4 linked regions of the Homo sapiens genome follow. The protein of the gene in region 1 interacts with the protein of each later gene in a pairwise test. Each region holds a gene or a part of one and is shown on either strand. Other genes may lie near its edges. The genes, in order: LRP2BP, CDKL3, P4HA3 and C1orf50.

What was found.
Region 2: the proteins of LRP2BP (region 1) and CDKL3 interact in binary tests that used the Homo sapiens proteins (3 or more experiments, as listed by UniProt).
Region 3: the proteins of LRP2BP (region 1) and P4HA3 interact in binary tests that used the Homo sapiens proteins (3 or more experiments, as listed by UniProt).
Region 4: the proteins of LRP2BP (region 1) and C1orf50 interact in binary tests that used the Homo sapiens proteins (3 or more experiments, as listed by UniProt).

Annotation. Positions count from the first base shown.
Region 1 is NC_000004.12:185,364,913-185,371,937, reverse strand, and holds part of LRP2BP (LRP2-binding protein), read left to right. Parts: intron 1-872; exon of another isoform or gene 873-980; intron 981-1,079; exon of another isoform or gene 1,080-1,123; coding exon 1,124-1,298; exon of another isoform or gene 1,299-1,303; intron 1,304-1,752; exon of another isoform or gene 1,753-2,143; coding exon of another isoform or gene 2,144-2,188; intron 2,189-4,692; coding exon 4,693-4,758; 3' UTR 4,759-7,025. UniProt on the Homo sapiens protein: May act as an adapter that regulates LRP2 function.
Region 2 is NC_000005.10:134,357,157-134,364,181, reverse strand, and holds part of CDKL3 (cyclin-dependent kinase-like 3), read left to right. Parts: intron 1-4,090; coding exon 4,091-4,285; intron 4,286-7,025.
Region 3 is NC_000011.10:74,301,630-74,308,654, forward strand, and holds part of P4HA3 (prolyl 4-hydroxylase subunit alpha-3 isoform 1 precursor), read right to left. Parts: intron 2,784-7,025; coding exon 2,641-2,783; intron 964-2,640; coding exon 740-963; intron 1-739. UniProt on the Homo sapiens protein: Catalyzes the post-translational formation of 4-hydroxyproline in -Xaa-Pro-Gly- sequences in collagens and other proteins.
Region 4 is NC_000001.11:42,762,567-42,770,271, forward strand, and holds the start of C1orf50 (uncharacterized protein C1orf50), read left to right. Parts: upstream 1-4,682; 5' UTR 4,683-4,745; coding exon 4,746-4,824; intron 4,825-4,942; coding exon 4,943-5,058; intron 5,059-7,705. Other genes in the region: P3H1 (prolyl 3-hydroxylase 1 isoform 3 precursor), read right to left, coding at 3,941-4,405.

The sequences.
Region 1 (7,025 bases):
CGTGTGCTGGTGTTTCCCAATCACACCCTTCCCACAGCGCCAGGTCTCCCCCCTCTCCGAGCCCTAGCTCAGGGCAGTCATCTACAAGAGAGGATGAAGGGAAGGAGGGGCTGCTTCTACCCCGCTTCCCCAGCGTCTCGGGCTCCAGGCAGCAGACCACTTACAGGAGTGATTGCCAGTGTCTCAAAGCAAGTGCCCATCTTAGTTAGAACTAAGACTTTAAATCATTCTTTAAAATCTTCGGCGCTTTCCCTTATTTTCCACATCCCTACTCCCTATGACATTGAGGTTAACATGGAGTTGACTGGATCACATTCTCACACAATTGTACATATTTGTGTCTGGGTATAAAGGATGACTTCTTTCCATTATCCTTTTTTTTTTTTTTTTTTTTTTTAGACGGAGTCTCGCTCTGTTGCCCAGGCTGGAGTGCAGTGGTGCGATCTCGGCTCACTGCAAGCTCTGCCTTCCGGGTTCACGCCATTCTCCTGCCTCAGCCTCCCGAGTAGCTGGGACTACAGGCACCCGCTACCATGCCCAGCTAATTTTTTGTATCTTTTTTAGTAGAGACGGGGTTTCACCATGTTAGCCAGGATGGTCTCAATCTCCTAACCTCGTGATCCGCCTGCCTTGGCCTCCCAAAGTGCTGGGATTACAGGCGTGAGCCACCGCGCCCAGCCAATTGTCTATTTTTAAAGAAGATGTGCTAGTGAAAGGGTTTTCTGGTCCTATGTGGCTAACGTCCAAACTGAAGGTTGATGTTTCCATACGTGATCCAAAGAAATAGAAAATGCTTTCTTCTCCGTTCAGTTTAAATCCACAAAGTGACATTAAACTTCCAGTAGTAATATTAGAAGAAAAAAGAAACATACCTTTGTTTTCCAGTGGTTATTGAGCCTGCTGAGCATAATTACAGAGACATGTGAAGTCACCACTCTGGGAAGCTCATCTTCTCCTGGTATGAGGTGCCTACATGGACCCTTCCCCACACAGCAAACAACTTAGTTCTCAAAGCAGTAGAGAGAAATCACTTCAGGCACAAGGACAGTCTCTAGGCGCATCGTTTTACAAACACTTACCATAACTGATGTCTTTTCCATTTCACAACTCTACATCCTCTCAGGATCGCTGACTATGATGAGGTTCACGACATCCCCATGATCGCCCAGGTCACAGACTGTCTCCCGGAGTTCATCGGCAGAGGCATGGCAATGGCATCCTTCTACCACGCAAGGTGTCTTCAGCTTGGCTTGGGCATCACCAGGGATGAAACAACCGCTAAACACTATTATTCTAAAGTAAGCTTTAGAACAAAATATAAATTCACCCAAAGAGAAACTGCCAGGCTTTTAGCTGCAACTTGAATAGTTTTACGGATTAGTGTTTTTTCTACTCAATTACTGTGCAGATAACCTCTGTCTACAGAGAAGCTGTCAGACATGCAGATTGTTTGCAGACAATTCTGTCAGAATCTTATTAGCATAATTTAGCTCCAATGATTAAAAGTCCTATTTTGATGCAAATTACTCTTTCATTCTGCTACTATCTGCAGCCTAAGGCCCAGCACCAAGACCTTAAAGCTGAACAGTTTTTCTTTCATCTAGAACAAGTGTGAATGTATACGTTCATTCTAGTACAGTAATGAAGTTTTTTATTCTAGTACAGAGTTTAAAGTTTTTTTGAGCGTGACATCTACCCCACTTAGGCGGGATATTTTTGAGTTTGAGGTAATCAGTTAAAATAAGTCTTTCATATTTTAATCCATGTGATCAATTTATTTAGATCCCAAATGCGTTTCACATCTCAAAGTAAATACTAAAAAGCAAGGGGTGTGGTAGTGGAGGGGGTGTAAGGGAGATCATTATGAGTACTAACTCTTAAGTTTAGATTTTTTTTAAAAAAAGAAAAACCAAAAAGCTGTGCACATCTTAGGTCCATCACATCCACGAGTCAGAATTACATCATAGCAGACTTGGTAGAGCAGTGTTTGTGGAACACAGATTGTTCAGCCTGAGTGGGGGAGTCTTCTGAGTCCCTTGGCTGACTCTGATATTACAGCAGTGGTTCCCAAGCTTCTCTGCATGTTAAAATCACCCGAGGATCTTTTACAAATTCCAAAGTTCAGGCCTTATTTCAGAAAATTTCAATCATGGTCTCTAGGAGACAGAAGCGTATTTGTTGAAGTTCCCTGTGGGATTCCAATGTCAGGTAAGTTTGGGAACCCTAAATTACTTTAAAATTAAAACTTCCAGAGCATCAAAGCCATATTAAAACATAAACATAGACACATAGCACACAGCCAAATGCAACTGATCTTTAAGATATTTACCTCTACACCATTCTTAGCATGAATAACAGTTGTCTAACTTTTTTCATTTAAATGTTCTCTGTACTGGCCAGGCACAGTGGTTCATGCCTGTAATCCCAGCACTTCGGGAGGCTGAGGCAGGCAGATCACTTGAGGTCAGGAGTTCGAGACCAGCCTGGCCAACATGGTGAAACTGGGTCTCTACTAAAAATACTAAATAATCCTGTCTCTACTGAAAAATAAAATTAGCCAGGCATGGCAATGTGTGCCTGTAAACCCAGCTACTCGCGAGGCTGAGGCAGGAGAATTGCTTCAACCTGGGAGCAGAGGTTGCAGTGAGCCGAGATCACACCACTGCACTCCAGCCTGGGACTCTGTCTCAAAAAAAAAAAAAAAAAAAAAGCTCTCTGTATTACATCAATTTCCAAACCAAGCCGATTTCAGGTTCTATCCTATCCTTAATATCCTTAGAAAACTCTAGTCAAATATATTTTGAAATATACTATATAGTCATCCTGACTAGAACAACAAAAAAAGTCCAGGTACCGTGGCTCATGCCTGTAATCCCAGCACTTTGGGAGGCCGAGGTGGGAGGATTACCTGAGGCCAAGAGTGTGAGACCAACCTGTCCAATATGGCAAAATCCCATCTCTACTAGAAATACAAAAATTAGCCCATCATGGTAACGCATGTCCATAGTCCCAGCTACTCGGGAGGCTGAGGCATGAGAATCGCTTGAACCTGCAAGGAGGAGGCTGCAGTGAGCCGAGGCTGTGCCGCTGCACTCCAGCCTGGGCAACACAGTGAGACTCCATCTCAAAAAAAAAAAAAAAACAAAACAGATTCCAATCTGAGAACGATTTTCCATACGATGGGAGAAAATAGCCCCATTACTCTGCAACTAGGATACTGTACTCTAGGACTCTAGGATACACATCTAGAATACTGTACTCAGTTTAGGCCATTGTACATTATGGGGATACTGATAAAATGGAGATCATTTAGAGGCAGTAAACCAGTGAAGGGTCTGGAATGATATCATATGACGCATGATATGAGGAACAGAAATGGTCTCCCTCAGAGCAAAAGGACACAAGGTGTCCCGACAGCGGTGTTCACTGGACCGGCAGTGTCCCGCAGGAAGGGAACGGGTTGGGAGGGAGAGGCAGTGTCCCGCAGGAAGGGAACAGGTTGGGAGGGAGCAGAATCAGTGCCCATGGCAGGCAGTGTGTTATGGCAGAAGGTGAGGCAGTAAGATGGTAACTGGGACCTGGAGGCGACAGACCCAGGCCTGCTCTCGGCTCTGCCACCGTCAGGCAGGGTGACTCCCACTTCCTAGAGTGTTAGGTTTCTGTGAAACCAGCATTATGTATTCTGTTAGGACCCTTCGAGGATTCTGGAGTACATGGAGAGAAACACCAGCCTAAAATAAGGGAAAGTTTTCTTTTTTTTGAGACGGAGTCTGGCTCTGTTGCCCAGGCTGGAGTGCAGTGGCGCAATCTCGGCTCTCTGCAAGCTCCGCCTCCCAGGTTCACGCCATTCTCCTGGCTCAGCCTCCCGAGTAGCTGGCACCACAGGCGCCCACCACCACGCCTGGCTAATTTTTGTATTTTTAGTAGAGACGGAGTTTCACTGTGTTAGCCGGGATGGTCTCGATCTCCTGACCTCGTGATCCATCCACCTCGGCCTCCCAAAGTGCTGGGATTACAGGTGTGAGCTACCGCGCCCGGCCATAAGGGAGAGTTTTCTAACACAACAGTTCAGGAAACAAAGAAAAACACAAGTTTTCTCTGAAGGTGAAAACTTCTACATATGTAGAATGTGTAACTTCCTGCTACTGGAAGCAACCAAGCAAATACCTAGTGACCAACTGTCGTGGGTACTGAAGGGACAATTACTGCATAGAATGGGGTTTGGATGAGAGCTCTATATCCCAAATTGTTGACATTCTAGAAATTATGCACCTTGTCACTATTTAGACATAATAAAATTATTTTAGCTGTATATTTTAAAATAAAATTTTACAGATGCTGTTATTCACATAATGAGATCATAACAACTTTGAGGCCAAATGTTAATGCTCTCCATTTTACTTATTTTAATAATTCATAACATACAATGCTATCATTGGTGCTTAAGTTCCCTTTATTCTTGGCATTGATAAAATATCTCTTTCAAATGAGAATAACATGGTTATTTTGAGTATTGATCTATTCTGCATAGGTTAAAGTAGGACATCAGAATAGAAAGTATCTTAACAAATTTTCTTGAAATTCACTGTACTTTACTATTCTTAAAAATGAATCAAAAAAGAAAAAAAAAAAAAGAAGAAAGACCCAAACAATTAGAATGTATCTAAATATCTGACTCTTTTTGATTTTAAGGCTTGTCGTCTGAATCCCGCATTGGCAGATGAACTTCACTCCTTACTTATTCGTCAAAGAATTTAGACCACAATGTATTTCAACAAAGATCATCAATGCTAACACCTCACAATGTGTGTATTTTTACAGTAGCTATGTTTGGTTATTTTGCACATCACAAATTACACTATCCTGGGTATTTTACAGGTGACATGTTACTTCGTTCTTGAATTCGTACGCTGTTAAGTTTTGCAACTTGAAACCTAGACACAAGGTCAAATTGCTGGAAGAGTCCTCAGAGGTCCACCTCTTACCCTACAGACTGGCCGAGACCATATCAAGTATTAAAACCATTCTATACAGCAAGTATCGTTTATCCTTTCTTAAACACCGAGTCTCCAAAAATACTTAGTTTAGCTTTAGTTTAGTAAGTTCAGAAGTAGAAACAAACTTATTTAAAACCATCATTTGAAAGTTTAATTCTTTAAATTTGTCTCTTAGTTTTGTGAATTTTGAATAATAATGTTTAAATTTTGTTTCAGTCATTTAAAATTTAAATTTTCAGTCATTTAAAATTTTAAAAATTTAAAATTTCACAAAACTAAGGGTAAAAGACATTTAAAGAATTAAACTTAAATAAGTGTGTGCAGCATTTCTACTTCTGAAGTTATTAAAGCTAAAACTGCACTAAGCCTTTTGAGACATCCTTTATTCTTAAAAAGCTCATAAATAATTGGCTTATTACATATAAACTTCAAAAAAGTGGGTTATAAGACATTGCTTTAGAATCTTGCCCCTCCAAATCTTCCCTCAAAGATCTTAATGAGTAAAACAACTGCTACATACATATGCAGAATGTGTAATAAAACAAAAAGCAATTGCTATATGAAAATATTCGTAAGAAAAGTAAAGCAAATTGTTTCTTTGTGCTTCAGCTCATTTTCCATATTTTTAAAACCCTGTGGTAAAAGCCTCAATGAAATCATTTACAAGAACTACAATTAAATATTGTTAAAATTAGCAAAAGGCTTTCCGTATATAGATGACATCTATGAAGGCAAAAGGTGACAGTAAAAACAGTAAGATCCATATGCATAAGATTGTACAAGGCTATTCATTTGTGAAACAAATATACATATCGAAGACAGGTCTCAGAGATACCTTAACTATTCCTTTTTTTATAAACATATTAAAGGATGTGGCTTTATTTTATAAATCACAACCATCCCAACAGTGGATTTAAACAAGATTTCTTTTTAGTAATGGGAAAATGCAATTAATATGGAGGTGATAGTCACTAAGAACTGTTGAATGGCAGAAAAGTATTTGCTCTCGTTTTATGTTCTGGCTTGTCTGTATTGCCTGAACTTCATTTTGTCTTTGTGTAAGGGAAGAAATTTCAACAGACTCGGGTTTGAGATATCCTCAAATGGTCATGTATTTCTGTCTCAAATCTCTTAATACCACCCATGTAACATTCCTTCAACCACTTGAAGATCCAAATTCCCAACTAGTATTCTCTTCTCCACACTTAATCCAGTTCCTAAAGATTATTATTATTATTATTATTATTATTTTTTTTTTTTTGAGACGGAGTCTCCTGACCTAATCTTAGCCCGGCGCAGTGGCTCACGTCTGTAATCCCAGCACTTTGGGAGGCTGAGGCGGGCAGATCATGAGGTCAGGAGTTTGAGACCAGGCTGGCCAACGTGGTGAAACCCCGTCTCTACTAAAAATACAAAAATTAGCCGGGCGTGATGGCGGACGCCTGTAGTCCCAGCTACTCGGGAGGCTGAGACAGAAGAACTGCTTGAAACCAGGAGGCAGAGGTTGCAGTGAGCTGAGATCGCGCAAATTGCACTCCAGCCTCGGTGACAAGAGCGAGACTCCATCTCAAAAAAAAATAAAAAGAATCTTAAAATAGGAACATAATAAAAGATCGGCCCTAAGTAAAGAGCACTTTTTAAACTGCCATTAAAGATGGGTTTCAGAAATCATAAACTTTGACGTGTGCCATACATGGTAACATGCTATGCTTATATGTCTTCTATAAATCCAATGCAGAATTTAAAATTTCAGTTTACTCTAGTTACCATAAAGCTAATGCTCTGGCACAAGCGAGTCCCTGCAAACTACCACTGCTGAGGACAGTAGTAAACCCCTTGACCTGAGACTGCGGTGAGTCTGTAACTCGAGTGCATTGAGACTTCCAGATCATTACTCTTACACACACACACACACACACACATACACACACACACACTCCTTCTCTAAGATTCCTTGTAGCTGATATCTCATGGAAAAATGACATTTTATCATAAATAAATATAGAGACAAAATAATAGTGATCTTTC
Region 2 (7,025 bases), on another chromosome or scaffold:
TTAAAAATATTTAAATAAGTATGTATTCTATTTATTGGAATCTATTTACATCCTTTAAGGTTTATGATCTTGACGATATAGTATAGCTGTTTCATATGCAGCAGATGTTCTTGTTTGCTTTATCTGATACAAAAATAATATTTTCTTCTTTCTTTGTAAGTCTATATGAGATATGATGGATCAATTTGCCTTCTTTCTCTCTCTTTTTTTTTTTTTTTTTTTTTAAGAAATGGAGTCTCCCTGTTGCCCAGGCTGCAGCGCAGTGGCATGATCATAGCTCACTGCAGCCTCCATCACCTGGGCTTAAGCGATCTTCCTGTCTTGGACCTGTGAAAGAGCTAGGATTACAGGCATGAGCCACTGTGCCTGGCCTAATTTGAGGAAATATATTAGGCATCTGTGGATTATTAGAATGGCTCTACGCTGGGCGCGGTGGTTCACGCCAGTAATCCTAGCACTTTGGGAGGCCGAGGCGGGCGGATTGCCTGAGCTCAGGAGTTCGAGACCAGCCTGGGCAACATGGTGAAACCCTGTCTCTACTAAAACACAAAAAATTAGCCAGGCATGGCAGTGTGTGCCTGTAGTCCCAGCTACTCGGGAGGCTGAGGTAGGAGAATTGCTTGAACCCAGGAGGAGGAGGTTGCAGTGAGCTGAGATTGCGCCACTGCACTCCAGTCTGGGCGACAGAGTGAGACTCTGTCTCAAAAAAAAAAAAAAAAAAAAAGCCGGCCATGGTGGCAGGGGCCTGTAATCCCAGCTACACAAGAGGCTGAGGCAGGAGAATCACTTGAACCCGGGAGGCGGAGGTTTCAGTGAGCCGAGACCACGCCACTGCACTCCAGCCTGGGCAGCAGAGCGAGACTCCATCTCAAATAAATAAATAAATAGAACAGCTCTATTTCTAGACAATGAAAAGTGAGTCAGTAAAGATGTTATGATTTTGTGAAAGATATCAGTTCATGTCCTGATGACCTAAAACATAATACTATAGATAAGGCAATTGTGTACTGTGAATGAAAATCTGATTAGGAGATTTTTTTCCCCCAAGGCAGTATCTCTTGCTCTTTCTTCAACTGTTGCACTTAAATTGATTATTTTTTTTCTATTTAATCATTTTGGAAAACTAACCAGTATGTGACAATACAGAGATGAACTTGAATATGTGTTTTACTGTAACAACTGTTATGCAGATAATTTTGAGATACCCTAACTATTCTCATTGGCTTTTTGTTATTGTTGTTGTTATTGTTCTGAGACAGTCTTACTCTGTCTGTCGCCCAGGCTGGAGTGCAGTGGCACGATCCTGGCTCACTGCAACCTCTGCCTCCCAGGTTCAAGCAATTCTCATGCCTCAGCCTCCAAGTAGCTGGGATTACAGGCACGTACGACCACGCCCAGCTAATTTTTGTATTTTTAGTAGAGACGGGGTTTCACCATGTTGCCCAGGCTGATTTAGAACTCCTGGCTTCATGTGATCTGCCCACCTCAGCCTCCCAAAGTACTGAGATTACAGGTGTGAGCCACTGCACCTGGCACTCACTGGCTTTTTATAGGATTTTAAATTTGATGTAATCTAATTCCACTGGAGAGATTTCTTGGACTAGTTAATATTCTTAGTCTAAAAAACTTGTCATAATTACTTAATTCAAATTACTTTTTTTTTAGACAGAGTTTCACTCTTGTTGCCCAGGCTGCAGTGTAATGGCACAATCTCAGCTCACCACAACCTCGGCCTCCCGGGTTCAAGCGATTCTCCTGCCTCAGCCTCCTGAGTAGCTGGGATTACAGGCATGGACCATCATGCCAGGCTAATTTTGTATTTTTAGTAGAGACAGCGTTTCTCCATGTTGGTCAGGCTGATCTCGAACTCCCGACCTCAGGTGATCCGCCTGCCTTGGCCTACCAAAGTGCTGGGATTATAGAAGTGAGCCACCGGCCTGACCCAAACTAAATTTTTATGCTAGAATTTCATTAAATAAATTACAGTTAGAGTAATTAGTGAGAATATCTGTAGAAAAGTTGTCTAGTAATGGAGAAAAAATTAAACAACTTGAAGAGGGGTACTAGAGCATTTCTAGGGATTTCATTTCATGGTTTATCTGAGTAAATACTGTACCTAATTCCTCATCCCTGAATGGATCTTCTACAATGCTTATTCATATTACCCCTTCCCTACTTTCACTGCTTTTGCCTTTAAAATAAAGACTGGACAGGAAACCAGTAATTTTCCTTAAGTAGAGGATTAATATGGTAGTGTCCAAAAGCAATCAATTCCTTGAGACGGAGTTTCACTCTTGTCACCCCGGCTGGAGTGCGATGGCACAATCTCGGCTCACTGCAACCTCCACCTCCTGGGTTCAAGCGATTCTCCTCTCTTAATCTCTCTAGTAGCTGGGATTACAGGTGCCCACCACCACGCTGGTCTAATTTTTGTGTTTTTAGTAGAGACGGTGTTTCACCATGTTGACCAGGCTGGTCTCGAACTCCTGACCTCATGTGATTTGCCCGCCTCAGCCTCCCAAAGTGCTGGGATTATAGGTGTGCACCACCATGCCCAGCCAACAGTCAATTCTTTTCACTGCTGTCAATATGCTATTGCTGCAGCACTGTGGCATCTTGCCAACCAGGGAAATTTGGAGCAAAAAGGAAAGGAATCTGGTGTTATATTTTGGATGTTTTTCTCTAGTCATGTTTTAAGGACTTTAGTCTCTTCGTTAGTTACAGAGAAGTAGAAAAATTGACACTGTGTTATTGGAATGAAGGCAAATATATTTTCATAAAGGTATAGTTTTCTAGAGCTAGGAACAGTGGCTCATGCCTGTAGTCCTAGCAACTTGGGAGGCCAAGGCAGGAAGATCACTTGAGGCCAGGAGTTCGAGACCAGCCTGGCAATATAGCAAGACTTGTTCTCTTAAAAAAAAAAACAAAAAAAAACCCTTCATTTTTAGCTAATTGAACACATATTCTTGATAGTTTGAACAAAATGGTTAAATATTTCAGAATTGATTATAATTAAGTCAGTGTGATGAAAAATAGAATAAGTAGCATACAATATTAAATCTCATTTGTTTCCTAAGCTGATACATGGGCATCATTTACATTTTAAAATTATTTTAGCAATAATTGTTGCCAGTCTAAAAAGGTGGTTAATTGTTTAATAGAAGAGTACAGACAAGGAGCAAACGTTCACCCACAAATAATTACATATTTATGTAAAGTTTCTGTGGTTATAAATTGGTAGTTCACATATCTGAAGATTTTGCATATATTTTGGTGTTCTTTTGTTATAGTCTAATGAATTTATGATGCTCCCTAGAACTTATGGTTTACTTTCTAGAGTTTAGGTTTAAAATTAGAGAATAATTAATTTATATAAATTCAGATCACATACTTAATCGTGTTGAAATCCATGCTCATTTGAAAACATAAGGGCCTTTTAAATTTTGGGTGTTAAATTTAACCACAAACCAAGTTTAAAAATAGCAGGATATCTTTCAACAGAATACTAAGTTATAGTACATTAAATTATTTTAATAAGCAACCAAATGCCAACTTGAGATAAAGTAATATATCTCACTTTGTCCTATAAATATTGATTATAAAATGGATTACATTTTCTTAAAATAGGAATGGAAGCACATTGGTTGAGAAATTTCAGTTGAAATGCATGGAACATAGGCTGGGCATGATGGTGCACACCTACAATTCCAGGAGTTGGGGAGGCTGAGGCAGGAGGATCACCTGAGGTCAGGAGTTCAAGACCAGCCTGGCCAACATGGTGAAACCCTGTTTCTACTAAAAGTACAAAAATGAGCTGGGCATGGTGGTGCACGCTTGTAATCCCAGCTGTTCAGGAGGCTGAGGCAGGAGGATTGATTGAAATAGGGTGGTGGAGGTTGCACTGAGCCAAGATTGTGCTACTGCACTCCAGCCTGGCGACAGAGCAAGACTCCATCTCAAAAAAAAGAAAAAAGAAATGCATGGAACAAAGCTAAGAATATGACTGTTTCTTTACAAAATTTACACGTTATATGTACAAATTGTTAGGCTTGAAATAATTAAAAATTTGTGTTGTTTCTTTTGTCAATAGCAATTTCATCACGAAAACCTGGTCAATCTGATTGAAGTTTTTAGACAGAAAAAGAAAATTCATTTGGTATTTGAATTTATTGACCACACAGTATTAGATGAGTTACAACATTATTGTCATGGACTAGAGAGTAAGCGACTTAGAAAATACCTCTTCCAGATCCTTCGAGCAATTGACTATCTTCACAGTAATAATGTAAGTGCTTCAGAATAAGCCAATTTGTAGGATGAATATGAATCATAAGTGCTCCTTATACATTGTTTTATTTTTATGAAGGTGGCTAACATTCTTTTTCTATACAATAATAATAGACATCCTGAAAATGGGGATAGGGAATAGGGGGCACTACCTTTTAGTTGCAGAACCAAAAAATATTGAGCACTCAGTAATTCCAACTATAAGGCAGACCAAGTATGGGATGGTAAAGGCAGTATCAGTAATTTTGTTTAGTAGAATCAGTAGTCAGCTGGAGCACTATTATTAGAGAAAGTATATTAAAACATTGAAAGTCAGGTCTGTGGCTTAATGGAGAGTTGCTCATATAAAGGGAGGTTTAGCAAGACTCCGCCTCACAAAAAAAAAGGCGGGGGGAATAGTAAGTAAATTGTGGATGCCTTTAGGGGAAGAAAGGAGATATAAAGTGGCGGAGCGGTTTGAGGCCTTGTCATTTAACCTATGAAAAATCAAGGAAGAGGAAAGATCACAGCTATTCTGATGTTTAGTGTTGACTTTAGCATTGGCTTGTAAGTGTTTAGCTCAGCAGGTTTTTTGTTTGGTTGGTTGGTTGGTTTTTGAGATGGAGTTTTGCTCTCGTTGCCCAGGCTGGAGTACAATGGCATGATCTTGGCTCACTGCAACCTCTGCCTCCTGGGTTCAAGCAATTCTCCTGCCTCTCCTTAAAACATCTCGGTGTTTGTCCGAGATGACGGTGCTCCTCCTCAATCAACCACCACACCTGGCCAATATTTTGTAGAGATGGGGTTTTCCCATGTTACCCAGGCTGGTCTCAAACTCCTGGGCTCAAGTGATTTGCCCGCCTCAGCCTCCCAAAATGCTGGATTACAGGTGTGAGCTACTGCACCTGGCACAGATTTTTTAAAAGATCAAATTAGGTACTAGGTATAAAGCATTTAAACTGTGTCAGGCACATTTTAAGTGCTCAGTAGATAGTGCTGGTAGGCTGGCTATAGTAGCTCACACCTCTAATCTCAGCATTTTGAGAGGCTGAGGCAGGAGGATCACTTGAGCTCAAAAGTTCAAGCCCAGCCTGGGCAACATAGCAAGACCTTGTCTCTACTAAAAATAAAAAATAAATTAGCTGGGCATCAGGCATCGTGCACAATCCTGTACTCCCGGCTACTTGTGAGGCCGAGGTAGGAGGATTGTTTGAGCCTGGGAGGTCAAGGCTGCAGTAAGCTATGATTGCACCACTGCATCCTGGTTGACAGAGCAAGATTCTGTAAGTAAGTAAATAAAATAAATAAATAAATAAATAAATATAGCAAGCTGGTTTGGAGTGAGGAATATTAATAGTTGTGTTAAGGAAAGAAAAGAAAAAAAAGGAAAAGAAAAGAAAGCTGGTAGGGAGTCAAGAATAGTGGTGTTATCTTTGTATCTGTTTAGAGCCTTGTCTATATTAGACTCTAAAAATGTTTCTTGAATAAAAGGAGATCTCAGTCTGGGCTAAACTGACAGTAGAAGACTTCCAAGATGAGGTAAAACTAAAGTAAGTAGAATTTTGAACTGTAGCTAGGATTTTGTTGGAGTAGAGGAGAAAATGCATTCAGGTGGGGTACCATTGTGAAAATAGAAGTAGACCGGAGCAGGGGACTTCAGAGAGTGCTGTTAAGTCAGGTTACAGGGAACAACAGATAGAGGAAGATAAGATTACACAGGTTCACAGGGGAGAGATTTTCCAGAACCTTGAAATTTACCCACAGGAGGGTGGACTCTTTCCTGAAGATCCTGGGAAACTACTGAAGATTTTGTTGTTTTTTTATTTTTGTTTTTCTTGAGACAGGATCTTGCTTTGTTGCCCAGATGGGAGTGCAGTAGCATGATCATAGCTCACTGCAGCCTCCAACTTCTGGGCTCAAGTGATCCTCCTGCCTCAGCCTCCCAAGTTGCTAGGACTACAGGCACATGCCACCACATCCAGCCCATTGAAGGTTCTTGAGCATTGCTGTGACTGGATGAAAACAAAATCTAATTTTATTTTAACATGAGTAGAAGATATGAGTAGATAGAGACCCAGAGAGATCAGACAGGTAGCTGTTGTGACAATCTAGATGTGTGGGTGGTAACGGTTTGGACTAAGTAGCAATGGGAAGGAGAGGAAGGATGGCAGAGGGATAGGATGGAAATATTTCAAAAGGAAAATCACAGGACTTGGGAAGTAATTAGATATGAGAGGGATGAAAACAAAGGGTGAAGTCAGAGGTTATTACAGTATTTTTTTTTGAGACAGAGTCTCTCTCTGTCACCCAGGCTGGAGTACAATGGCAGGATCTCGGCTCACTGCAACTTCCGCCTTCTGGGTTCAAGCGATTCTTCCTGCTTCACCCTCCTGAGTAGCTGGGATTACAGGCTCCTGCCACCAGGCCCGGCTAATTTTTGTATTTTTATTTTATTTTATTTTATTTTATTTTATTTTGAGACAGAGTCTTGCTCTGTAGCCCAGGCTGGAGTGCAATGGCGTGATCTCACTGCAGCCTCCTTCTCCTGGGTTCAAGTGATTCTCCTGCCTCAGCCTCCCAAGTAACTGGGTTTACAGGTGCGTGCCATCATGCCCGGCTAATTTTTGTATTTTTAGTAGAGACGGGGTTTCACCGTGTTGGTCAGGCTGATATCAAACTCCTGACCTCGTGATCCGCCCACCTTAGCCTCCCAAAGTGCTGGGATTACAGGCGTGAGCCACCGCGCCCGGCTTACATTT
Region 3 (7,025 bases), on another chromosome or scaffold:
TTCAAAGTTAAAATGGATTTGCTCCATTGCTTTTTATAGCAAAGGCTGGCAAAGAGTATATTACAAAATGATCTCACGTGTGATTACAACTTATAATCAAAGATCAGTTAAATACCTCAGATGGGGGGCGGGGGTGTTCCTGAAGTCTATTTCCTCAAGTAATGTTAAAGTGAATGGCCTTAGATTTTGGACACTACTTTAATTTTGTACTTCCAAATGCTTAGGAAATGTTGCATTGGATTCCAGAAAGTCTCAGGAGGCTGTTTCCGTGATCTTACCTTTCCATCACCATCTCTTATCCTTTTCCCCAACCTTGCGTCCCTGACCCCCTGCTTTCCCTTTCTACCCAGGAGTTCATGCACTGGCAGGGTGCTATAGTTAGGGTGAACAAAGGACCATTTTTCCTAGTTCATGTCTGTTGTTCTAGCATAATTAATAACACCCCTTTCAATCTCAAGAGTGTTCTAAGTATATAAACACCTTAACTACTATGGAAAGGGCCTGAGATTTGGAGTCAAAAGACTGGGTTCAAGCTTTAGTTCTGCCCTTAAAATTGCATAATCTTAGGGCAAGTTATTTACCCTCTCTGAATCTTGTTTTCTTTCTCTGAAAATGGAAATGATATCAAATTTCCAAGTTTACTGTAAGTATTAAAAAGAAGTAAAATCAATCGGTACATAGTTATTTTATCCATAAGAAACCAGAGCCAAGCAATTGGCCCTCTCTTGAATATTGTTACCTTGCCAACTTGGAAGCAGTCATCCCCTGTGAGAGAAAAGAGCCGTTTGGGGCTGTACAGGTCAGTGATGGCAGAGCCAGTGACTCTCTGAAAGACACCTCGGGCCAGGCCTTTCACATTGAGCATGTACACGTCCTGCAGCCGCATCAGGGCCCTTGCTGCTCCCTCAAGGTCCTCAAAGGCTGGAAGGTCTTGCTCCACCTTCTCATAGCCATCCTTCAGAGCTGTAAAAGTAGTAAAAACATCAACCCAGCATTCAAGAAACAGGAGTTGGGCATTTAATACATGTAAGGCATGACCACCTGTTCAAATATTTAATGACATCAAGTTGGATTTGTCTTTGTGTTCCCAGAGGCAAGCACAGTTCCTGGCACAGGGTGGATGCTTAATGCAATTCTGAATGAGGAACATTCAGAATGAGTGAATGAGGAATAAAAATTAAGGCATACAGCTTCATTATATTGTCCTATCCTGTATGTTTACAGGAGTCTCACTCTTTAGGGAGACAACTCTTCTTTTTCTTTTTCTTTTTTTCTTTTTCTTTTCTTTTCTTTTTTTCTCTTCTCTCCTCTTTTCTTTCTTTTCTTTCTTTCTTTTAATAGAGATAGGATCTTGTTCTGTTGCCTAGGCTGGAGCACACTGGCATGATCATAGCTCACTATAATCTTGAATTCCTGGGCTCAAGTGAGCCTCTCACCTCAGCCTTCTGAGTAGGCAGGACTTCAGGCACACGCCATCACATCCATCTAATTTAAATAAATTTTTTTGTAGAGACAGGGTCTTGCTATGTTGCCCAGGCTGGTCTCAAACTTCTGGCCTCAAGTGATCCTTCCAACTCAAGCTCCCAAAGTGTTGAGATTATTGGCATGAGCAACCACACCCAGACTCTTCTCACTGTTAGCTTTCCAAAAATCAACAAACTTCTTTTTTTTTTTTTTTTTTTTGAGACAGGGTCTTGCTCAGTCGCCCAGGCTAGAGAGCAGTGGCGCAATCTCAGCTCACTGCAACCTCCACCTTCTGGGTTCAAGCAATTCTTGTGCCTCAGCTTCCCAAGTCTACAGGCATGCGCCACCATGCCTGGCTAATTTTTGTTATTTTTAATAGGTTTCGCTATATTGCCCAGGCTAGTCTCGAACTCCTGAGCTCAAGCAATCTTAGCCTCCCAAAGTGCTGGGATTACAGGCATGAACCACTGTGCCCAGCCCAAAAGTCAACACTTTTTTTTTTTTTGAGACAAAGTCTCGCTCTGTCACCCCAGGCTGGAGTGCAGTGGTGCGATCTTGGCTCACTGCAACCTCTGCCTCCCGGATTCAAGCAATTCTCCTGCCTCAGCTCCCGAGTAGCTGGGATTACAGGCATGTAATCCCACGACTCCCCGGTAATTTTTGTATTTTTGATAGCGACAGGGTTTCACTATGTTGGTTAGGCTGGTCTGGAACTCCTGACCTCAAGTGATCAGCCCACCTCAGCCTCCCAAAGTGCTGCAATACAGGTGTGAGCCACCGCGCCTGGCCGTCAACAAACTTCTTACAGCACAAAGTAGAATAAATTAGGAAAGTGATCTTGCTATAGATGACACTGTAGTGACAATTTAATGAAACAGAAACTACTAGAAGACCGTTATTTTCTATACATATATAAATGGAAGGCTTGTACTTTGTCACAGGATTGTAGTGAACATCAAATGAGACAATTGATATGAAAGTGCTTTCTAAGGTATAATCATATAAACTGATTAGCAAGCGGGCCTAATTCTTTGTGCTAGCTAGAGCTAAGGATATTAAGTAATACCCACCTACTCCATTACCCTTTGAAATCACATCCCAACAGAATCTCTCTCCTTACCACCGAGTCAGGAGATAGAATCTTCTCTCTTACCCTCCAGCCCTCCTCCTCATTACCTCGGATGTTCTCACTGGCCTCCAGACTATGTACCACATTCCTCCAGTCAGACTGCAGGCGTTTGATGAGAGTAAATGCAAGCAGAGGGTTAGCCACAGGGGTTGTTGAATCCTCATGCAAAGAAAGTACCTTGTCGTAGAATCTGAAAGAAAGGAGTAGAATGATCTCACCTCCTGATACAACCACTACACCTAGGGAAGGCTGGCATGGTGTGTGTACATTAAGAGTAGCTAACACTGACATGCTGAACCTCTTGAGATTCACATAATAGTCCAACCAAAAAGCCATGCAAGCCCAAAGAATATGAAAACTATAGATACAACAAAAGTAGGTCCACTCTTTTGTTCACTGAATGAGTCAGTCTATATTAATCAATTACTGTATTTCAGGCACCATGCTAGAGATATAAAGGCAAGACAGGGTCCAGCTCTCAAAGGGATCACAAAGTCTTTTTCTCCTGTCATCACTGTATATGCAATACTTAGTATCTGGTAGAAACTCAAAAACACTATTGAATTAATTATAACCACTGTGATATGTGCTATATAGTGGTCCCCAACCTTTTTGGCACCAGGGACTAGTTTCATGGAAAACAATTTTTTCCACGGACCGGGGGGTTGGGGGATGGTTTCGGGATGAAACTGTTCCACCTCAGATCATCAGGTACCAGTTAGATTCCTATAAGGAGCACACAACCTAGATCCCTCACATGTGCAGTTCACAATAAGGTTCACGCTCCTATGAGAATCTAATGCCGTGGCTGATCTGACAGGAGGTGGAGCTCAAAGAGTAATGCTCCCTTGCCCACCACTCACCTCCTGCTGGGGGGCCCGCCTCCTAACAGGCCATGGACTGGTACCGGTCCCTGGCCCAGGGGTTGGGGACCTCTCTGCTATGAGAGAAGTGAGCATATAATGCTGCAGCTGTGCAGGCAGGGCAGCTCATCCAGGTGGGAGTTAGAAGGGGGAAGGAAAGGCTTCCAAGAAGAGATGGCATGTGATCTGAATCTTGAATGATTTGTTAAAATACTGAAAGCTATTACTTATTGAGCTCCTACCATGTATTGGCCTGTTGGGTGCTCTAAATAGATTGTCTCATTTAATTACCCCCCACCTTCCAACCGACCCTTAGTGTAGATTTAATTTTACCCATTCCACAGAGAGGAAACTGAAACAAAGCCACACTGTTAGTAAAGGGCAAAGCCAGGATGGAACCCAAGTCTGACTAACTCCAAAACCTGGGTTCGCAGCTGATTATGCTATATGGTTTCTTAAGGAGCTAGAACAAAGAAGAGAAGAAGAGTATTTTTCAAGCCAACAGGAACCATTAGTGTACAAAGGCACAGAGGCTTGAGATATATTTGTAGTAAGTCAATCTACACGAGTTATTTGCTAGATGTCAGACTCCATGCTAGATTCTAGGGATACAAAGGCAAGACGAGGTCTAATACTCAAGGATTTCATGGATAAGAAAATAACTTTTTTTCTCATCATTCTATACCTAAATTCAATACATATTTCTATGAAAGAAAGAATGAAGTATACTCTCCTAGGAGCTAGGGACAAAATTCTGAATAAGGAAATAATCTTGGTCTCAAGGATCCACAGTTTAGTGAGTAAGAAAGACACAAATAATTACATTACAGATGCAATACCAGATTTAAGAACAAGGCTTAGTGGGGAGGACAGAGAGGGGATGATTAATTTGGCCAGAGCAGGTTAGAGAAGGCTTTAAGTGAGAGTGGTACTGTTGAAACTATGACTTGTTCACATATATAAATGTGTGAGAGGGTGGGGAGGAGGCCACTTCAAAACTGCAAGCACAAGACAAGGAGACTCTGAACCACGACAGCGATGGAGAATGGACTGGGTTCAAGGAAGGAGTTTAGGAAGTGGTGATGACTGTAAAGGGGAATAAGAGGTGGGATCGTCCAGCACACTTCCAACCTTTCTAGCTTGGCAACAAATGCAGAAAAGGGCAGAAATGGTAGGGCCTGAAGTGATCATCTTTCCAGTTAATTTCCCTTCTCCAGTGTCCTTCAACAGTGTTTATATAGGCAAAAGATGCTGTTTCCTTTCCTAGTATACTCTGGTTAATTCCATTTCTAAAACACCAATGGAATTTATATTACTGAAATTTATTATCTATAACAGGGCAGATTAAGGTACTATTCCTGCTCTCCAAGAGTTTTCCCGCTCGTTTTAAAATTATCAACTTCAAAAATAGTATAACAAGAATGGAAGTAGAAGAAAAAAAAGTTTGTGCAAAGTGAAAAAAAATGAACGTGTGCAAGAGCACAGGAGACTATGAGTCCTTTGGCAAGAGTGGGCGACTTCTGCGAGGAGACAGAGATGAAAGTGAAAAATAGAGGAAGTGGCAAGGTGGTAGGATTTCAACCCCTTGGAGCAGAGTCTTATCTGAGGATTTCTAAAGAGTGAGGTCCTCAACTATGAAATGAAGCCTGAAATAGAAGACGACTGCCTTGAGGCTTCCAAGGAGCCAAATGTTCAATTCAACATAAACTAAGGAACAAGAACCTGGACCTGGGTCTCCCAGTGGGGAAATGGGAAGCCTGTCAAGTCCCAGGGTGTCTCTGATCCCAAAGACAAGGCAGTCTGTGAGCTGAAGCTCTAGGGTTTTGAAATGAAACCAGCCTCCAGGGTGTGGGATCTTTACTACCCATTGTCTCCTGCTTTGGCTCCGTATGGAACTACTTAGGGAAAGATACTCCACTGCTTGATGAAAAATCTTAACAAGCGGAGACTTGGGCTTGAGTCCAGCTTAAAGAGTAGGTGTCCAGGAACAATTGAGGCTGAGAGGGCAGTGATTTTATAAGACAGCTGGATAGGAAGGAACTGGGACTTATTCTGACCCAGCCTCCAACTATCACTCAGTTTCCTCATCCATAAAATGAAGGAACTGATCTAGTCTAGAAGATTTCTATGGATCTTTTCAGCATGAACATTCTGTTATTTCTTCTCATCACCCCCTCCACAACTGAATAAACAGATTCCTCATTAGCTTGAGGACTAATGTTTAATAGGAATCAGAGGACACTGAGGCACAAAGGTAAAGTGGTAAAGCAGAGAGGTGAATATTTGCCCCAAGTCATGCATCAAATCAAAAGTGCTGTCTACTTCCTTGTTTTCTTAGCACCCCTCTTTGCATTTTGGGGTTGATTTGTTTAGGTCAGGGTTTGATCTCTATTGCAGCACATCAATTCAATCCAGTGTTTAGATATGCCATTTTTCTGTCACACAAAGAAAAAAAATCTCTCAACTGATAACTGAGGTTGGCTTAGAATCCAAAAGTTGGCCCTATGCCCAGCCTCTGAGCACATAGCGGTTTCCAGAGACTGGAAACTGAGTTACTGGATGCTGAATTCAAACCTCAGGGTTTCCTAAATGTCTTTTTGCTTTAACAAATACTGCTGAGAATGGAAAATCAGATCCTTTCCTTCAAGAATCTGCACATAAAATTTGCAACCCAATCCCTGCATTAAACATAGCCTGGGCAGGTTATCCAACCACAATACATGGGCTATTTCACTTCAATATGTTTTGCCTTTGGAATTCAGAAATGGTTTTGTATCAGTTCTTCTGGGACATTATTAATGCTTAATCCTTAGCACAGAAAAAATTGCTGCTGACACTTCTCTCTCACTCTTGGTGGTGTTTTAAACTGCAAAAACAGCAACAACAAAAGCTAGGATAAACTCTTTTTATATATATAACTAGTATATGTACCATACTGGCATATAACTATATATACTATAACAAGTATAATTTTTATTCATTAACTTGGAGTAGGGAGTAGTTTCAACCTCAAGAATACTGCATTTTTCTATCTCAACTGAGAGCCTTGGAAATAGCCTCTCAAGTTACATAAAATCACCAGATTGGGAGTATAGAAAAATTAGCAAGAACTGCCAAAATTCTTGTTTTAAAAGGCAAACATAAAGGCTGGGCACGGTAGCTCATGCTTGCAATCCCAACACTTTGGGAGCCCGAGGAGGGAGGATCACTTCAGGTCAGGAGTTCAAGACCAGTCTGGGCAAGAGAGCAAGACCCCGTCTCTACCAAATCAAACCAAACCAAACAAAAACAAAAACAAAAAAACCCTAGCCAGGCATGGTGGTGTGCACCCGTAGTCCTAGTTACTTGGTAGGCTTAGGCAGAAGGATCACTTGAGCCAGGGGTTTGAGGTTATAGTGAGCTATGATAGAGCCACTGCACTCTAGCCTGGGTGACAGAGCAAGACCCTGTCTCTTAAAAAGCAAACATTTCACTGGGTTTTAGAGCAGTCACTAGAGAACAGAATGACAGAATGACAGTCTTCAAAATATCAAACTAAACTACAAAATTAACTGTTCATAAGTCACCTG
Region 4 (7,705 bases), on another chromosome or scaffold:
CTGCCTCCCTGAGCCCTCCACTCAGCGTGCCCAGCCCCTGCCAGCCCCAGGAAGCACACCTATTGCAGGAACTACCCACGACAGATTAGGAGCATAGTGCCCTGGGCAGATTTGTAGCTCTTTCCCAAGTCAGATTTAGGGGTTCCCCAGATTACAGGAAGTAGCAATGTTCCATTTTAAAACAAAGGTCATATTGTATGGGGAGTGCTGTGAAAGACTGACTGCCCACATAATATGTTTTCATGCTGGGTGCGGTGGCTCAGGTCTGTAATCCCAGCATTTTTAGAGGCCGAGGCAGGTGGATCACTTGAGCTCAGGAGTTCAAGACCAGTCTGGGCAACATGGTGAAACCCTGTCTTTACGAAAAATACAAAAATTACATGGTACTATATGCCTGTAGTCCCAGCTACTCTGCAGGCTGAGGTGGGAGGACGCTTGGGCCTGGGAAGCAGAGGTTGCAGTGAGCCAAGATGGTGCCACAGCACTCCAGCTTGGGTGACACAGCAGGACCCTGACTCAAAAAAAAAAAAATACATATATATATTTCATGAATCAAATGTAATGCCTGAGCTGAAGAAATTCTGTGGCTTCAAGGATTTAGGGGTAGAGAAAAAAGAGCAGCTAACAGACTATGCCTAAGAATTTTCCTAGAAAAAAATTTTTTTTTGCATAAAATAAAATGAAGAATTTTTGAGACATTTAGGGAAAAGGTGGATGGCTAAAAATTCTAAGGTCCTTTACTAAGTCCAGACATAGTATTTTCTGACTCAAAGCTCAGGGCTCATGAGGTTCAAACAAATAGCTCTAAGAAATCTGAGGGGGTGGTCGGGGGCGGTAGCTCATGCCTGTAATCCCAGCACTTTGGGAGGCCGAAGGGGGCAGATCTCTTGAGGTCAGGAGTTTGAGACCAGCCTGGCCAACATGGTGAAACCCCGTCTCTACTAAAAATACAAAAATTAGCTGGGCGTTGTGGCGCACACCCGTAATCCCAGCTTCTTGGGAGGCTGAAGCAGGAGAATCGCTTGAACCCGGGAGGCGGAGGTTACAGCGAGCCGAGATCACAGCACCATACTCCAGCCTGGGTGACAGAGCGAGACTCTTGTCTCAAAAAAAAAAAAAAAAAAAAAAAAAAAAGAAATCCAAGGGGGGAGAAATAGGCTACAGACCACAATGCCCACAGCAATGGACTCCAGCATGTCAAAGTAACACAGGTTTCATATATAGAATCCAACCAAATAAATCACTGATGATCTAGTAATTAACTATGTGGACACTGGTATCAAAGAGACCAGCCGTGGCCAGGCACGGGGGTTCACGCCTATAATCCCAGCACTTTGGGAGGCTGAGGCGGGCGGATCATGAGGTCAGGAGTTTGAGACCAGCGGATCATGAGGTCAGGAGTTTGAGACCAACAATAGCTGGGCGTGGTGGCATGTGCCTGTAATCCCAGCTACTCAGGAGGCTGAGGCAGGAGAATCGCTTGAACCCAGGAGGCGGAGGTTGCAGTGAGCCGAGATCGCACCATTGCACTCTAGCTTGGGCAACAAGAGCGAAACTCCGTCTCAAAAGAAAAGAGGGCTGGGTGCGGTGGCTCACGCCTGTAATCCCGCACTTTGGGAGGCCGAGGCAGGTGGATCACAAGGTCAGGAGATCCAGACCATCCTGGCCAATATGGAGAAACCCCATCTCTACTAAAAATACAAAAATTAGCCGGATGTGATGGCACGTGCCTGTAATCCCAGCTACTCGGGAGGCTGAGGTAGGGGAGTCACTTGAACCAGAAAACCAGAAGTCAGAGGTTGCAGTAAGCCAAGGTCGCCACTGCACTCCAGCCTGGCAACAGCGAGACTCCATCTCAAAAAAAAAAAAAAAAAAAAAGAAAGAAAGAAAAGAGACAGGCCAGCATCACATCTGGGCTTAATGACTCACTGACTGGCTGGGCAGTAGACAAGATACTTAAAGTTTACTTTCTAAACTCAGTTTCCCTAATCTATCATCTGGAGATAGCATTCTCTAGCTATCTCCTAGCATTGTTGAGAGTTCAACGAGATAATATGCAGCCTGTAATACATGGTGCTGGGCACAGATTAAGTGCTCAATAAATTTTAGGTGGTATGATTAATATGCTAAGAAAACTTATTTTCTTATCATTGGTACTAGTAAAGGCACACTAAAGGAGTCAGCCCTGGTTAGGTGACCCAAGGTAAATAACTCCCCATCTCTGTACCTCAGTTTCTTTAACTGTAAAATTAGAAATTTTTTCAGGTCTGTCCCTTTCATGGAATTACTCTAGCTCTTGTGTCTTTCAGCGCTGCTCCTGCCTTTCTCTGTTCTCCCTCATGTCCTCACTCCTCTCTCCACCCCCAGCCTTCTTTACTCTCTAAGCACTGAGGTACTTAACCTCCTCTCTTGTGGACAAATGTCTGCCTCCTAATCAAGTGCCACCACTTTCTCCTTCTTCCAAGGCTCATTCACCATGGCTTCCAGAATAAGCGTTTTAAAACCCAAATCTGAGGATGGCTCCCTGCAGTCCGCAGAATTCTCTTCCAAATCTGGCCTCACTGACTTTTCTAGCCGCCTCTCCTACTACTCCCCACACACATCTCGACATTGCAATCACAAGAGTTCATTTTTTTTCCTGAATACATCATGCTTTGGTTCTACTTTTCTCTCTATCTGGAGGAGCCTTCTTTCCTCTCCCCCTGGCAATACTTAGGGCAGGCTTCAATATTACCTCTTCTTTGAAGTCTAATTTCTCTGAGATAAAGCTAGAGTCTCCCTCCTTTGTGCTCCCGCAGCCCTAAGTATATGCCCTTGCAGTAGCCCTTACTACAGTAACTCTTAACAGCAAAGCAAGACAAAGCAAAGACGTTAGTCGAGCATTTAATTACTTGTACAAGAACTGGAATGCAGTAGGTATGCAATACATGTTTGTCAAATAGTTTTAGAAAGTGCTATGATGAAGCGACATAACCAAAGACATAACGCAATTATTTTGATTTCAAGTCCAGCGCTCTTCCGAGTAACTAGGAAAAATGAGGGGAACTGTGTAGGCAGAATGCTGTGGAGGGGTGGAAATCTGAGGTCCCCAAGAGTCTCTAAGTGTCTCTTTAGATCGAATCGAAGGTCTTTTAAACAACAGATATACCAGATATAATGCACAACTCTTTCTCCCCCCACCCCCAATACAGTGGGACTAATAACAGCATCTACCTGACAAGATATTATGAAGATTAGGGCAAATGCGTTAATAAATGCAAACTGCTTAAAATAGTGCCTGGAAGTATGTGCTGGCTATCATCATCATCATCATCGTCACCATCACCACCACCAAACAAGCCTGGAACGCTCCAAGCCCAAGTGTACACTTGGACACATGGCACTCTGGCATTCCGAAAAATACTCATTTTCTTTGTAAACCTGGCAGACTAGCCAGAGGGTCCCCCCCCCGCCCCCACACACACACAGAAAGGGCCAGGCAGCCCCTGCTGGCGACGTGGCAACCTCACATCCTGAAAGAGAGCTGCTGAATCAAACAGCAGGAAAAGCACCACTGGAAAACCAACCGGAAGGGAGATATTGTAGACCGCTACTAGCTTCTCACTCGGACACTTACAATGACATCAGAATGGGAGACCCAAACTGCCGCTTTAATTCCTTCCAGGAGATTTCCCAGGGAACAAAATGGCCATGAGTTTTGCTTGGCCTGTGCCCTAACCCCAGGCTGGACCTTTGGGGTTAGCATCTGCCCATGCGAACTGGGCGAGGAAGGTCTCCTGCCAGGGAGCAGCTCTCCCCGGCTCCGAGGAGAGCTCCCCAGCCAGGAGGCCACTTTCCCCTCCCTGCGGACACTTCCCCGATCCCCCAAGCTCCTCAGGTCCCCTGCAACACTCCTCTCCCCAGAAGGACCCCGGCCGCCTGGTTCCAGGCAGGTCTGCACCTTGAAGTAGGCGACCTGCAGGTAGTTGTAGGGGCTCCGCTTGCGGAACTCCAGCTCCATCTCTTCGCTGAGCGAGTGGGCGGCCGGCGGCCCGAGGCAGCGGCGCAGGCAGGCAGCGCGACGCAGAAGGCCCCCGAAGAAGCTCAGGTCGCGCAGGGCGGCGGCGCCCGAGGCCTGGGCCGGGCTGGGGGACCAGTCGGGGTCCAGCTCCCACGGGAAGTCGGCGGCACACTGGGTGCGGCAGCGCAGGCGAAGGGCGCGGAGGGCTGCCCGGGAGCGCAGCGCCCGTTCCATGCTCAGGACCACCCCGGGCCAGTCCCCGCGCGCGTAGGCTGCGGTCCCCTCGGCGAAGAGCAGATCAGGCGTCACCATGCCCCATCCTGCCTCGGACTCGACCTCGGCTTGGGAGGCAGCGGCCACGACAGCCAGCAGTGTGGTCAGCAGCTTCAACGCGCGTACCGCCATCGCTCCCTCAGACCTAACGGAACCGCCAGCCACCCGCCACCAAGGCCGGAGTCCTACCCCCGGCGAAGGCCCGCCCCCGGGCGAAGCCCCACCTTCCAAGCCGGGCGGCGCATGCCCACGAGGCTTGCACCGCCTCTTTTCCTTTCAGTCAGCCCGGATCCCCCCACCGGCCCTCAGCGAATCCCGGCGCGTCAGCCGGAGCCCCGCCTCCGAGCTCAGGCCTTGCTCAGTCGAACTGACGCCCAGTAGACAAGAAAGACGGAAGCTCCGCCCACGCGCCTTTATGCGCAGGCTCTTCCTACTCGCACAGCCCAGGGAGTGGGGAGGATAAGGCGCTGTCATGGAGGACGCCGCCGCGCCGGGGCGGACCGAGGGGGTCCTTGAAAGGCAAGGAGCGCCGCCAGCTGCAGGCCAGGGAGGTATGCGGGGCGGGAGTCAGCAGGGGGAAGTCAGCTCCCGCGAGGCAGCCGGTCTCGGGGCTCCGCGGGAGGCCGACGGCGGGAGCTCACGGCTTGTGTTCCTGGGTGTGTGTCGCAGGAGCCCTGGTGGAGCTCACCCCGACCCCCGGCGGCCTGGCCCTGGTGAGCCCCTACCACACCCACCGGGCCGGGGACCCCTTAGACCTCGTGGCGCTCGCAGAGCAGGTGCAGAAGGTGAGGAGGCGCGGCCGGGGCAGCGAATAACCATCTTCGTTCACGTTGTACTCTGCGTCTTTCGGCTCAGACCTCACTACCACCTATGGTGGGGGTGGCATTTGCTCTTGTCTCCATTTTACAGACGAGTAAAGCCGACTGTCATTGTGAGTCGGTGGCCTGATTCGAATGACCTTCTGGGACCAAAGGTTCCTCTAACTGCAACTTGAGTGCCCATAATCTTCCTTCGTGGGAAGGTTTACACAACACTTTAGTGTTCATTATTTCATTTGCACCTTAGGACAGCCTTGTGAGGTAGGCAGTACAGAGTTATTCTTCCCATTTGACACAAAGAAAAGTTCTTCGGGAAGTTTCAAGGTCCGCTTATTTTAAGCTGCTTCCCATAAGATCTTTGTTACCTGAGAGTTTAAACATCTTCTAGCAGGGCAAGGACTCCAAGTTTAGTCCTCATTAAACACAGTATTCCCAAGCCCAGTGTTTATATATGGATGGCCAAAATAAGTCAAATAAGGAGGAAATGTGAAATAATGGAAAAAACACTGGAAGTTTGGACACATGAGTATTAATCCCACTTTTGATACTAACTTGCAGTGCGACTTAAGGCAGATTACTTCTCTCTGGACCTCAACTATTTTATCTGTGAAGTGAAAGGTTTGAAGTAGTAGAGCTCCAAGATCTAAAGTTTTGTCATTATTCAATGAAAAACCAGATTCCTTCTTATCTCTTATCAAGACTTCCAGTTGTACACCCTCTTCAGTGTCCACAGATGGAGGGTCCTGCTGTTTTAAAGATTATCATGGCCCCTTATCCCTGTATACACTATCAGATTTGGCCTTGATTATGTTCCAGGGTCTTTGCTTTGCCCAAAATTATTTAATGTGCTCAAATTCCCTCACATCTCTTTTTTTTTCAATGATCCTAGAAATCCTTCGAATCCTTTTTTTTTTAAAATTAAGAAAAATTCAGATACGCAGAAAGCTCCTTTAATTCAAAACTTGGCTTTCTTCTTTTTGAAGAGCTGGGGAGCAAAGTGCAACTTTTATTTATTAAGAGAATATGCATCTAGTTAATCAGATTACTCTTATTGGGAGGGAGGTTGGCAGGGACAGAATCTTGTGCACACAACGTATTCATGTGCTATTGAATGACTATCGTGTTTATTACGATGGCCTGAACAGATGGAAGAAAGAACACAGTTTTTGTCTTTCATCCTATAATCTTATGAAATACAGAGGATGCATTATTATGCTGCCTCTGTTTCCCCAATACAATCTGTATTTGAGAAGCTGAAGAAAAAAAAAACTTTAGAGACAAACAAATTGAATCAAACATATTAACTATCTAAAATGTACTTTTTGGCCAGGTGCCGTGGCTCACACTTGTAATCCCAGCACTTTGGGAGGCCAAGGTGGGTGGATCATTTGAAGTCAGGAGTTCGAGACCAGTCTGGCCAACATGGTGAAACCCCGTCTCTACTAAAAGGTGTGGTGACTCATGCCTGTAGTCTCAGCTACTCGGGAGGCTGAGGCATGAGAATCGCTTGAGCCCAGGAGACAGAGGTTGCAGTGAGCCGAGATCGCACCACTGTACTCCAGAATTGGTGACAGAGTGAGACTCTTAAAAAAAAACAAAAAAATGAGGCTGGGTGTGGTGGCTCACGCCTGTAATCTTAGCACTTTGGGAGGCTAAGGCGGGAGGATTGCCTGAGCTCAGGAGTTGGAGACCAACCTGGGCGACATGTGAAACCCTGTCTCTACTAAAATACAAAAAATTAGCCGGGCATGGTGGTGTGTGCCTGTAGTCCGAAGCTACTCTGGAGGCTGAGGCGGGAGAACTGCTTGAACCTGGGAGGCAGAGGTTGCAGTGAGCTGAGATCACACCACTGCACTCCAGCCTGGGTGACAGAGCAAGTCTAAAAAGAAAAAAAAATGGTGGTGGGCTGGGTGCAGTGGCTCACGCTTGTAATCCGAGCACTTTGGGAGGCCAAGGCGGGTGGATCACGAGATCAGGAATTCAAGACCAGCCTGGCCAACATAGTGAAACCCTGTCTCTACTAAAAATACAAAAAATTAGCCGGGCATGGTGGCAGACGCCCGTAATTCCAGCTACTCATGAGGCTGAGGCCGGAGAATCACTTGAACCTGGGAGGCAGATGTTGCAGTGAGTGGAGATTGTGCCACTTCACTCCAGCCTGGGTGACAAAGTAAGACTCCGTCTCAAAAAAAAAAGTACTTTTTTAGCAAGACTGACCCAGGTATTGGTGTGTGTTCAGAAAGCTCAGGAGGCCTGGTATTAAGGCATGAATTTTGGAATCTGACCTGTGTTCAGATCCTTTGCTGTTTATTATCTGTGAAACCTTGGACAGGTTGCCTCATGTCTGTGAGTCTTAATTGCTAAAATGAGAAAGTGAGGTTATCATCTCCAGCGTCATAAAGGTGTTGTGAGAAGTAAATGAGATGAATGTAAAGGGCCTCAGAGTAGTTGAGGCCAGGGTTAGTGCTTAGTAGTTGTAGGTACTCTTCCCTTCCTTTCTTTTTTATGAGGCTCTTTTGTTTTTAAGTTGTTCGTGAAATATTTTGCATTTTTTTTGTTTGTTTCTTTTTTCCTTTTTTTGGACCTCAGACTAATCCATATTTTGCATTTTATA